2 linked regions of the Homo sapiens genome follow. The protein of the gene in region 1 purifies or fractionates together with the protein of each later gene. This does not show direct contact. Each region holds a gene or a part of one and is shown in the gene's direction. Other genes may lie near its edges.

Region 1 (6,634 bases):
CCAGACTGTTACAGGATTGAAGAAAGATTTGTCAGGAGTTCAGAAGGTATGAAGAACATGTGTTACTGTTTGTTTATGTGAAAACAGTTTTAAAGGATATAAACTCTAGTCATACTGTTTTTTATTATTATTTAATATTATTAGAACTAAATGTTATTTTATATTGTTAAAATGTTATAATTGCTTTCAAAGTCTGTGGACATCTTCAGAAATGCCATTTTTGTGTTCTTTCTAAACACAGCACTGAAATTTGGAAATTAATTTATTTTTCTTTCTGTCTCTGAATTGTTCAGTGATTGCAGGTGAGGTATTTATCTTTTTGTATCCTGGTCGTCATTTGTGGAGCTCTTAATGATAGCCATTGTGCTTCTTGATGGTTTTACAACCAGCTTAGGAGAACTTTGGAATGTAGTCTCCTACCAGGGTATTACTTGTTAAAGAACAATCTCATGAGTTCAGCAAGTCCTGCTGTGCTGGATTCCTGTGATGTTCTTTTTTCTTAAAACAATCTTGTTTTGTTTTACATTTTAGAAGGGCAGGGATTAAGTAATTCTAACTTAGGCAGTCATAAAAGCAGTCTTTATTTTTTTAAATCTTCCTAATTGAAGACTTAAATAAAGGATCACAGTTTGCTTTCTTAAAATCATGTCTTTTCTGTGGAAAGAATTGAATTAGGGGAATTCTGGTATTTTGCATTTCTGAGTTATAATAACAGGTGTCATAAGGAAGTTATGCTTTGGATTCCAGAGCATGAAGATTTTATTGCAGCAAGCTAGAAAATCTTGTTGTACAATTGACTTCTAAAGATCTGTTTTTTTCTTATAAAAGGGAAACCTCACTCTTAAAAACTGCTAGGAAGCGCTGTATTAGACAACTGCTGAATTTCAGGAAGTAATGAAAATTTCTCTTCTTCACATATTGTTTTCCCTCCCAATTGGATTAGTTTATTGCTAGAAATGTGGTTCACAGGAAAACAGCTGTGAAGTTATCCATATAAATCTTCATTTTCTACCTCTATGTATATTTTGCCTCTTTCCCAATCCCAACTAAATGCTCCTGATTAGCTGAAAGAAGGAGAACAGCTCTGTTGTTGATCTAGGTCACGCAGTAAAGCCCTGGTTCCTTCATTTGAGTATGTTCTGGAGCCTTACTTGGAGTGGCTACTTTCATGTTTCCCTCCTGATGTTCATTCTGGTGTTTTGATGTTTCAGTACAGGATGTTAGTTTTTAACATATATTTGCGAGCCTAAAATCTGAATTCTGGCATTAACACATTTAACAACAACACATAACTTGGTTTGTGTGTTGTTTAGAATAACATGGTTCTTTAATAATTTCAAGGTCCCTGCACTCCTAGAAAATCAAGTGGAGGAAAGGACTTGTTCTGATTCAGAAGATATTGGAAGCTCTGAGTGCTCTGACACAGACTCTGAAGAGCAGGGAGACCATGCCCGCCCCAAGAAACACACCACGGACCCTGACATTGATAAAAAAGTAAGCAATGAAATACCTTCCCCTTTTCTTTAGTGTGGGAGCACAGCCGCTCTTATTTCTCTTTGCTCAAGGATCTAGCTAGATTATGATGGCTGAAAACATTATTGATAAGTACCTCTAATTACAGTTTTAATACCTAAGTGTGAACTTGACTTTTGGTGGTAACATTATCTTGAGATTGGGCTGCTCATCAGAGCACCTTGGGCATTGCCTAGAGAGAGCACGCACTAAATTCAGTACATTTCACATGAAGTACAAGTGATGTTAGAGTTGACCCAGGGTAAATACTGAAGAGCCATTTCAGGGGGATTTATAGCCCAGCTTGATGTTTCTGGAATCTGAAAGACCATATAATAGTCCCCCCATCCATGCTTTCAGTTTCTACTGTTTCAGTTCCCTGCAGTCAGCCTTGGTTTGCAAATATTAAATGGAAAATTCCAGAAGTAAACAATTTATAAGTTTTAAATTGCTCACCGTCCTAAGTAGTGTGATGAAATTCATGCTGTCCTCCTCCATCCTGCCTGGAATGTGAATCATCACGTGGTCCAGCGTCTTCACACTGTCGACACTCCCCACCCGTTAGTCACTTAGTAGCCTTCTTGGCTATCAGTTCAGCTGCTGTGATGTTGTGGTGCTTGTGTGCAAGTAACCCTTACTTTGCTTAATAATGACCGTAAATTACAGGAGTAGTGATGTTGGAATTTCAGGTATGCTTTAGAGAAGCCATAAAATGCTTCCTTTAAGTGGAAAGGTGACCATTCTTGACTTAACAAGGAACTCATGCCTGTAATCCTAGCACTTTGGGAGGCCAAGGAGGGCGGATCACTCCAGACCAGTCTGGGCAATAGAGTGATACCCCGTCTCTATTAAAACATTGGTGATGAGCACCTGTAGTCCCAAATACTTGGGAGGCTAAGGCAAGAGGATCCCTTGAGTCCAGAAGTTTGAGGTTCTAGTGAGCTGATCATGCCACTGCACGCCAGCCTGGGTGACAGAGTGAGATTCTGTCTCAAAAAAATAAATAAAAGGAAAAGAATCATATGCTGAAGTTGCTGGTGAGAATCTTTTATCCGTGACATTGTGGAGAAGGAAAAAGATGTTTGTGCTGGTTTTGCTGTCTCACCCCAAACTGCAAAACTTAGGACCATAGCATGTGATAACTGCTTAGTTAAGATGGAAAAGGCATGAAATTTGTGGGTGAAAGACGTAAACAAAAACATCTTCCAGTTGATGGCACCATGTTGCACCAGAAAGCACTGAGCCTATACGAAGGTTTCAAAGGTTTCAGCAAGGGTTCCCCTGAAATGAGTGCCACCAGGCCATTTACTGTAAGGAATAGTTACACAGATTCAGGAATAGGTTTGGACTAAAAAATAGAAAAATTACCAGAGAGGCTGCATCTGCCAATGAAGAAGCTACTGTCACATGAGTATGATACTGTGGGATATTTGGAGAGAGAGACCACATTCAAATAACTTTTACTATAGTATATTGTTACCATTCTGTTATTAGTTATTATCTCTTACTGTGCCTAATTTATAAATTAAACCTCATCATAGGTACGTATGTATAGGTAGAAGCATAGTATATATAGGGTTTGGCACTATCCACAGTCTTAAGCATCCACTGGGAGTCTTGGAACATATCCCCCATGGATAAGAAGGGACTCTTGTATTTCTTTAATCCCTAGCCATAGACATAGAGACACTGCTGACTGAGTGCTATGTGACTATTATTATTCCATCTTAGTCTAATCCTTTAAACCTTATACAATGTGGGTCCCAAGACTTCTGAGGGACATACTCAGCTGCTAGCATATTTTCTCATATGTCTACTAGAAACACATATTTTGTCTCTTTCCAATGTCTATTTCTGTTAGAATATGGAACTTGTAAAGAAAAGTATTTGCAAACATTTAATAACATTCTTAGGGATATTTCTGTTTGGCTGTCTTCACATTTCTATTAAGGAAGCTCAGCTGGGCGCGGTGGCTCACGCCTGTAATCCCATCACTTTGGGAGGCCAAGGCAGGTGGATCACGAGGTCAGGAGATCGAGACCATCCTGGCTAACATGGTGAAACCCTATCTCTACTAAAAATACAAAAAATTAGCCGGGCGTGGTGGCAGGCGCCTGTAGTCCCAGCTCCTTGGGAGGCTGAGGCAGGAGAATGGCGTGAACCCAGGAGGCGGAGCTTGCAGTGAGCCGAGATCACGCCACTGCATGCCAGCCTGGGCGACAGAGACTCCGTCTCAAAAAAAAAAAAAAAAAGAGGAAGCTCAAGGCCGGTTATGGTGGCTCATGCCTGTAGTCTCAGCTACTGGGGAGGTTGAGGCAAGAGGATTGCTTGAGCCCAGGAGCTTGAGGCTGCAGTGCACAATGGTCATGCCACTGCCCTCCTGCCTGGGTGACAGAGTGAGTCCCTGTCTCTAAAAAGAAAAAACTGAAAGACAGTTTTCACCCCAAGTTCCTCCACCAACCCATAATCATTTTCTTTTCTTTTCTTTACATTACACTCACTTTTATTCTTCTATGTGTGTATTTTATTTAGTTATAATCATAATAATACTCCAGGTGGGTGCAGTGGCTCATGCCTGTAATCTCAGCATTTTGGGAGATCAAGGTGGGTGGATCACTTGAGCCCAGGAGGTCGAGACCAGCCTGTGCAATCTGGCGAAGCCCCATCTCTACCAAAAAATACCCCAAAAAAACCTAGCCAGGTGTGGTGGTGCACACCTGTTGTCCCAGCTACCCAGGAGGCTGAGGTGGGAGGATTGCTTGAGCCCAGGAGGTGGAGGCTGAAGTGAACCATGGTCACGCCACTGACTCCAGCCTGGGCGACAGAGCAAGACCCTGTCTAAAAAACAAAAAACAAAAAACAAAAACAAAAAATGCATACTCCAAATGAATGAAAGTTGGCTTTTTTGTTTGTTTTTTACAGGAAAGAAAAAAGATGGTCAAGGAAGCCCAGAGAGAGAAAAGAAAAAACAAAATTCCTAAACATGTGAAAAAAAGAAAGGAGAAGACAGCCAAGACGAAAAAAGGCAAATAGAATGAGAACCATATTATGTACAGTCATTTTCCTCAGTTCCTTTTCTCGCCTGAACTCTTAAGCTGCATCTGGAAGATGGCTTATTGGTTTTAACCAGATTGTCATCGTGGCACTGTCTGTGAAGACGGATTCAAATGTTTTCATGTAACTATGTAAAAAGCTCTAAGCTCTAGAGTCTAGATCCAGTCACTGACTCTGTCTGGTGTTGACAGAGGATTTATTTAAGCTATTATTTTAATAAAGAACTTTGTACATTTTTATTTTTATATTTTTTTCTCTTACAAATATGTTTTTGGAAGCATGATAAATGTTTAAATGTAGTCAACATCTGTAACTCTTACATGAGTGTCCAGAGGCACTCATGGGAAAATTGGTTTTGCTTTCTTTGTACACACCAGAGACCCATCTGAGGTCATCTGATTATAAGGCCATGTTTATATAAAGGGAATTTCACCCACAGTTCAGCTGGCTGTTGATTTTCACTGCAACTCTGCCTTTGTGTGTATTGGCGATCATTTGTAATGCTCTTACACTTCGTCTTTAATGTTCTTTTTGGAGTTAGGACCTCTCAGTTCATAAAGTTTTTTACAATTCAATCATTTGGCATATTCATTCATTCATCAAAAATTTGAGTATTTTAGTTGCTGGGGATACAGCAGAAAACAAACTAGACAAAAATTACTACCTTTGAGTAGTTTACATTTTGATAGGAAGATAAGACATTAACCAAAGTAAGTAAAAAGCAGTGTATCAGCAGGTGATAAATTCTATGGAGAGAAATAATGCAGAGATGAGAGGGCGCCTATAGATGAAAGAGTTTGCAGTTTAAAATAGGGTTCTTGGAAAGGCCTTACTGAGGGCTGATATTTGAGCAAATACTTGAAGAAGGTGAATTGTTTGCATAACAAGAAGGAAGAACATGCCAGGCAGAACAACCAGCAGTTGCAAAGCCCTGAGGCAGGAGTGTACGTGACATCTTCCAGAAACAGGGCTGAGACATCATCATCAAGGGAGAAAGTAGTAGATGCAATCAGATAGTGTACGGCTGTGGGAGGGTTTTGGCAGGGGAGTGATATGATCTGACTTCTGTTTTAAAAGGATTACTCTGGCCTCTGTGGAGAATTGATCAGGAAGCAAGGGTGGGAGACCAGTGGGTATGTTCATTGAAGTAAACCCAAGCAAGAGACGCTGATGGCTTGGTATAGGATGGTGGCAGACATGAGAGAAGTGGTTGCACATTCTAAGGGAAGAGATGAGATTGCGTGGAGTGAAGGGTGACTTCAGGGTTTCTGACCTGAGCAGCAACTGAGATGACTGGAGTTGCCACTTACTGTGATGGGAAAGACTGGACGGGAGCAGGTTTGGGGAGGGTAGGAGGGTGAGATAAAACCTTACATCACAACATAGTACAGATACTAAAAGAAATTACCAATTTAATTTTTTTAATGATATACTTTATGTTGGAAGTGACTCTTGTAGTCATTGCATTTAGAAATAATTTCTATAAATCAACCCCTAGTTTTCACTTAAACTGAAGCTTGCCCCTGCTTATTTGACAGTGGGTTATAGGGGGAAATCATTTGAGCTCTTTATGTTTATTTTGACTATAAAGTTCAAAATATGAAATATAATTTCAATGAAACACAAAAATAATCCCTCTAAAATAGTCTACAGTTAGCACAACAAAAGAAAAAGCAAAAGCAGATATCAATCCTGCACACATCTGGGGAGTTTATCTTCAGGATCTTCTAACTCTTGTGTTTGTTTTGATCTTACTCTCCGACATGGTATGTTTGCATTAGGAGGTCAAGCTGCTCAGTGCTGTCTTTTGCTGAATCTCATGCAGTTTCCAAGCTTGGAATCAGTGCCACTTGGCCAGATGTAGCAATAGCCAGATTGTGGGGCAGTTCATTCTCTTACATTGCTGCTGGGAGGAAGTGACTTGTAAAACATCAAGAGTTGGTAATGAAGATTCTAACCTGAGAAAAGCTTTTCTGATACCCCTCTTGCTCATGTGGCTGTATCCTTGTTTGGATTCTGGGTCATAAGGCTGTGGCTGGTTAATAGCCACTCATCGTATTCTTGCCAA
Region 2 (7,000 bases), on another chromosome or scaffold:
ATTTGTTTCAGCTTTTCACAAACAAATCTCTTATGTTTCTTCTTTAAGATTTTTTTTTTTTTTTTTTTTTTGAGACAGAGTCTTGTTCTGTCGCCCAGGCTGGAGTGCAGTGGCGCGACCTTGGCTCACTGCAAGCTCCGCCTCCCGGGTTTAAGCGATTCTCCTGCCTCAGCCTCCTGAGTAGCTGGGACTACAGACGTGCTCCACCACGCCCAGCTAATTTTTGTATTTTTAGTAGAGACGGGGTTTCACCATGTTGGCCAGGCTGGTCTCAAATTCCTGACCTCATGATCCACCCACCTTGGCCTCCCAAAGTGCTGGGATTACAGGCATGAGCCACCGTGCCCGGCCAAAATAATTTTTTTGTGTGTGAAACATAAATACAAAAAAAGGGTATAAATACACACACATACTGTGTACATATATATACAGTCCAGCCGTTCTTCATCTGAGGGAGTGAGGGAGAATGCCCAGAGATGATAAAGCTGGAGAAGGAGAGAGTCATGTTCATAAATTTGGCTTATAGCCTTTAGGCTTTGGTGAAACTATTTAGTTTGAGGCAGAGAGGGACAGCAACAGATTAGGTTTGGCTGGACTTGGTTTAGTCTCTCAGATTTGTGTTGAAAGATTTAGAATCTCCGGCTTATTTCAGAGCTTAGTTTTTTATAGGAAGTTGAATTTTTTTTTTTTTTTGAGATGAAGTTTCACTCTTGTTGCCCAGGCTGGAATGCAATGGCGCAATCTTGGCTCACCGCAACCTCCGCCTCCTGAGTTCAAGCTATTCTTTTGCCTCACCCTCCCGAGTAGCTGGGATTAACAGGCATGCACCACCATGCCTGGCTAATTTTGTATTTTTAGCAGAGATGGGATTTCTCCATGTTGGTCAGACTTGTCTCAAACTCCCGAACTTAGATGATCCATCTGCCTCGGCCTCCCAAGATGCTGGGATTATAGGTGTTAGCCACTGCACCCGGCCAGGAAGTTGAATTTTTATCCAAATAAGGAAGATACAGAGGCATGAATAATATAAAATAGACAGTTTAAAACAGGTAAAATAGGTAATCAAATTAAAATTAGGTAATTTAAACTTAAAATTTTTTTTTTGTATCTCATTCCAAAATTAATCTTAAACCAAATAATTAAGTTAACCCAAATTCAAGACCTCTCTTAGCTTCCTGTCCTGTTTTTCATCCCGTGCTGGGAATAAAGGACACTCACCATACTTGTGCAAAAGCATTTGAATTCAGCAAAACATGTTCTCTACATGTTTACTCTGTGTCTAATTCTTCTTGTCTTTCCCTTTTGACTCACGGTTTCTTTGGAACTGGGTATGATTAATTAAATGTTTTAGAAGGATTTCTTCTAGAATATATACAAAGAGTAAATGCAAATCAGAATTTAATGATCAGACAAAACAGTTATATTTTTAGATGATACAGTGAAATCTTTTATGTTTCTCTACATCACTTTGAAAGTTAGAACTTGAATACTTTCAGTAGATTTATTACAATCATCCCAGCAAACTTTAATGGCAGCATGTCTGGCCTATTTCATCGTGGCCTCTGCTAGAATTAGAAAATCTGGTGGTGGTGCAACAAATAATTCATGTGCAATAGGATTTAATTTGTTGTTAATAGGTATTTGTTCAAATTAAAATTGCCAGATTAAATGAATGTACTGTCAAATCTCTTTTTTTTTTTTTTTTTTTTTGAGATGGAGTCTCCCCGTTGCCCAGGCTTGAGTGTGGTAGCGTGATCTTGGTTCACTGCAACCTCCGCCTCCTGGATTCAACCAATTCTCCTGCCTCAGCCTCCCAAGTAGCTGGGATTACAGGTGCCTGCCACCACACCCAGCTAATTTTCGTATTTTTAATAGAGACAGGGTTTCGCCATGTTGGTAGTCTGGTCTGGAACTCCTGACCTCAGGTGATCCATCCACCTCGGCCTCCCAAAATGCTCCCAAAATTATAGGCCTGAGCCACCACGCTCGGCTTATAATGTCAAATCTTTTTTAACATAGTAACATGCTGTTGGAAAAAATAAGTTGTTGAAAGTAAGTTGTTTTCCCATTTAAAAATATCTGTGAATATTAATATATGATTTGCATTTGTAAATCTGAAAAAGTAAAATACAGAAACCTAGGGTTTCTTTTCTTTTTTTATTTAAAAAAAAAAGAATTTAACGATTAGAATAAGTGTTTTTAAGTGTGGAACTTGGCTTCTGTCCTATAGAATGCATAATCCCAGTTCATGTAAAAGATTATGAGAGTTCCATAGCAAATGCTGTGCAGAGGAGCATTTGTATTCTCTCTGCACTAGTAAGGAATTACAGAGGTATTATGATGGCTTTTAAAAGTGAAGGCCATAATTTGATAGGCACTCATTCTATGTTTAGGTTTCAGTTTTTCCATGTCGTCATTGAGTCATTCAAGTTTTATGGCTCTGGATATTTGAAATTATTTTGGACACCCAAATTTGGAATGTTTCTTTCTGAATTGTGATAACGCCAGAAAATTTTTGAGATCAGAAAAGGGCAGTTTATTTGCTTTAAAATAATACAGCTTTTGTAGGGGACTCGTGATACTTGGGCATTATTTCCTCTCCACATTAAAAGGAAAGCAGTGGGCAGGAAAGATGCATACAGCACATAACCTCATTACATAATACAATGTTTCTTTGGAACCAGTAGGAATGAGTTGTTCTGGAAAACAATTTGTAGAGGTTTTATCACTTTTAGCTCTTTAAGATTTATCACTTTTAGGCCAGGCGCAGTGGCTCACGCCTGTAATACTGGCACTTTGGGAGGCCGAGGTGGCAGATCACCTGAGGTCGGGAGTTTGAGACCAGCCTGGCCGTCATGGCAAAACCCCATCTCTATTAAAAATACAAAAATTAGCGAGGCGTGGTGTCACACGCTTGTAATCCCAGCTACTTGGGAGGCTGAGGCAGGAGAATCGCCTGAACCCTGGAGGTGGAGATTGCAGTGAGCCAAGATCATGCTACTGCACTCCAGCCTGGGTGACAGAGTGAGACTTCATCTCAAAAAAACAAAGATTTATCACTTATAAGCTTCCTAGTTTTCCTTTACTTTTTTTTTTTTAATAAGAATGTTGGATAGAAATCTTTCCACATGACAGTGCATATATTCTTACTTTTGCCTTTTGAAAGTATACAATTAGGGGCAGGGTGTGGTGGCTCATGCCTATAATCCCAGCACTTTGGGAGGCCGAGGCGGGTGGATCACGAGGTCAGGAGATCCAGACCATCCTGGCTAACACGGTGAAACCCCGTCTCTAAAAATACAAAAAATTAGCCGGGTGTGGTGGCGGGCGCCTGTAGTCCCAGCTACTGGGGAGGCTGAGGCAAGAGAATGGCGTGAACCCGAGAGGCGGAGCTTGCAGCGAGCCGAGATCCGCCACTGCACTCCAGCCTGGGCGACAGACCGAGACTCTGTCTAAAAAAAAAAAAAAAAGTATACAATTACGTAAGTTTTAGTATATTTACAGAGTTGTACAGTTATCACCACAATCTAATAATCTGCCTTTGTTTTTGGTAATGCTTTCGGTAACTGAGGGTCATGTGGTTAGACATTGATTTCATTTAGGGGAACTGAGGTGGAAAGTTCATCCTCCCCTTCCACTGAACATGAGTGATCTCAGACTGTCACACTGTCATTGTTCCTGCCCAAGGCAGTCCTAGGTTCTCCTGTTTTACTTTTGTTTTTGCTTGGTTAGAAATTAGACAGCCAGGCTTGTTAAAATTGTATAGAATATAGAATGATACAGGGGTCTTACTTCATTAACTTTTAAAAATAATTCATATAGCATACAGTTTAACCATTTAAACATACAATTCACTAGTTTTTAGTCTGTTTACAGAATTGTGCAATTATCACCACCATTTTAGAATATTTTCTTCACCCCAAAAAGAACCTGGTACCCAGTAGCAGACATTCCCTATTTCCTTCTAGCCCTAGGCAACCACTATATTGCATTAACATTTTTTTTTTGACTTCTTCAGGATTTTTTACTTTTTTTCTGCTAAGTGGTACAGCTCCAGATGGATGAAGTATTATCAGAAAATTAGCTAGCCTCTACTGAAAGCTCAAAATACTGATTTTGGTGATGTGTTTCCTTTGTTACACCAATAAAATATTTGCATTTGACCACATTTGAGGGAAAACTAGATCTAGCTTTTCTGTGGCTTTCTCTTAAAGACGTTGAATAAATGAAAGGCTTCAGGGAATCTGTCTCTCAGGGTAATAATTATTTCCTGACTTGCGGTGAGTGTGATTACAGCCATTTCATATATATGTCTTTTAGTGTAGGATTCATGGAGAAATGCATGATTACCAAGGATTTATTGCATACTTAACTCCTGAGCTCTTTGTTAACGGTTTTGAAGGATGTTAATAAAGGAATGTGACAAGTTCTGCTGTCCGATAGTTCACATTCCATAAGGGCACATATAAGACTCATTACCACAGAGTTAAGTGCTAAAATTTGCAAATCAGAAAAGGAAGAGATCTTTATGGACTGGTGTAGTTGAAGGGAGGCCTCATGGAAGAGGGGAGGATTTGCAAAAGCAAAGAGGGTATTTGAAGACATACCAAAAAAGAGTAAGCATGAAAGTCATAGAAACATACATGTGACTGAGGAAAATGGAATTTCAAGTCTGTTTGAATTTATAGCTAGAGGGAAAGAGACCGTAACAGAATTGATCTTAAAGAAAACTCAGTTTCCACTACTGAATTTTCTTATTTTATGAACGTTTCTAAAAAAGTAAACTTGAATTTATTTATATGCATAAAGGTGTCCAAGCTGAACTTTTATATACTTTGTGGTCTTACATGAGGATTTACTTTCTAAAAATAATCTACTTAAAACATGTTTTTCAGCCGCCTGTCTTGGTTAGATGGCTCTGGATTAGGATTCTCACTGGAATACCCCACCATTAGTTTACATGCATTATCCAGGGACCGAAGTGACTGTCTAGGAGAGCATTTGTATGTTATGGTGAATGCCAAATTTGAAGGTATGTATGGTGTAATTTAATCTAATGCCTCCTTTGATAGCAAATTATATTTTAAAAAAGAGTCTTTGAGGCCGGGCACGGTGGCTCACGCCTGTAATCCCAGCACTCTGGGAGGCCGAGGCGGGCGGATCACAAGGTCAGGAGATCGAGACCATCCTGGCTAATACGGTGAAAACCCGTCTCTACTAAAAAATACAAAAAATTAGCCAGGCGTGGTGGTGGGCGCCTGTAGTCCCAGCTACTCAGGAGACTGAGGCAGGAGAATGGTGTGAACCTGGGAGGTGGAGCTTGTAGTGAGCCGAGATCATGCCACTGCACTCCAGCCTGGGCGACAAAGTGAGACTCCGTCTAAAAAAAAAAAAAGAAAAAAAAGAGTCTTTGATAATAATCAATGTAACATTGAGGCCATTGACTCATTTTGGGTAGTAGTTTATTAAGCAAAATTTCAGCACAGCAACTTGGACACTTGAAGTTTTCACAATGGATGTTCATGTGTGTCTGTATATATTTCTCTATATTTACACTTAGAATTCTTCATTTATTATGGATATGTATTTCTAGCTTTTCCTCTAAAGTTTCACTGTTTATTCTGCCTTTCTCTTTTTAAAAGGCACCCTTAGGGGCTTGGATCAGTATACCCTGTGCTTCTCATAATTTAAGATAGAACTGTTTTGTTTTGTTTCAGTAGTGGGTCTCAGTGGTTGTAGGGGGGATATATTTTCCATGGGCCTCCACCAACCTCACCATTCCCCCACATTTGGCAGTGACATTTTGGTTGAAAGAGGAAGGGTATTATTGGTGTCTAGCAGTTAGATGCCAAGGATGCTATTATTATACTAAATATTCTGCTATGCACAGATGGTCCCCCACAACAAAGAATTATTCCATCCAAATGTCAGTAGTGCCAAGGTTGAGAAACTGTAGGATATAAAGATTCTCAAGTTTTGCTTTGGGATAATTGCAAAGACTTGTAAAAGTCTAGTGAAGATGCTCATGTTTAAAATAACGGGTTGCTTTTCTTTGAAGTAGTGTGTAAGAGACAATCCTATGAAGTTACCTACAAGGCTATTGCTCTTTCAAATTTAGATTTTAATATGGTTCCAGATATAATATGATCATTTATATTCAGGTGTGAAACTATTTAGTAATTCTTAGGACTTTTGGCAAGACCTGCCTCATTAAGTGGTAATGACTGATTCAGCTATCTGAAAATATTTTTGTTATAAGATTTCAAATTCTTGCCATTGGAAAAGGTTCAAAGACATTTAAAAATCTAGTGAAGTTTGAAAAAGAGGATGAGGAAAAGTAAAAGGCTGTTAACCTTGGGGTGTAGTAGTGTAGTAAGACTTCCTAATAAGGCATTTGGCACAAAATTTACTCTCCATCTAAGTAAATGCAACTATGATTTTATAACCAAGAATATTATGTGTCATGTTTAGTTTAAAGCATTCATTCATTTGCAGAAATGCGAAACCTTGCTCTTGTCAGTCAACTCCAGATGCTGGTGTGAAATGGCCCCAAATAGTGACGGCCATTGGAGGTGGGAAAGGTACATGCCAAGAGAAAGGCTTAGGAAATAGCATTTAATAAATACTAGCCTAAGGGCAAAAGCACATTGAATAAGAAAACTCTGTCATTAGGCCGGGCACAGTGGCTCAAACCTGTAATCCCAACACTTTGGGAGGCCAAGGGGGGCAGATCACAAGGTCAAGAGATCGAGACCATCCTGGCCAACATGGTGAAACCCTGTCTCTACTAAAAATACAAAAATTAGCTGGGCGTGGTGGCGGGTGCCTGTAATCCCAGCTACTCGGGAGGCTGAGACATGAGAATCACTTGAACCCGGGAGGTGGAGGTTGCAGTGAGCTGAGATCGCGCCACTGCACTCCAGCCTGGGCAACAGAGCAAAACGGTCGAAGAAAAGAAAAAAAAGTAAGAACTCTGTCATTAACTTGCTAGGCAAGTCAT

The links. Proteins that work in one complex are often made in the same cells at the same time.
Region 2: the proteins of RIOK1 (region 1) and CLNS1A purify together in Homo sapiens (affinity purification with mass spectrometry; 3 studies listed by BioGRID and IntAct, with this or other methods). This does not show direct contact.

What each region holds. Positions count from the first base shown.
Region 1 is NC_000006.12:7,412,897-7,419,530, forward strand, and holds the end of RIOK1 (serine/threonine-protein kinase RIO1), read left to right. Parts: coding exon 1-46; intron 47-1,341; coding exon 1,342-1,494; intron 1,495-4,434; coding exon 4,435-4,545; 3' UTR 4,546-5,141; downstream 5,142-6,634. UniProt on the Homo sapiens protein: Involved in the final steps of cytoplasmic maturation of the 40S ribosomal subunit. Involved in processing of 18S-E pre-rRNA to the mature 18S rRNA. Required for the recycling of NOB1 and PNO1 from the late 40S precursor.
Region 2 is NC_000011.10:77,627,795-77,634,794, reverse strand, and holds part of CLNS1A (methylosome subunit pICln), read left to right. Parts: intron 1-4,895; coding exon 4,896-5,032; intron 5,033-7,000. UniProt on the Homo sapiens protein: Involved in both the assembly of spliceosomal snRNPs and the methylation of Sm proteins.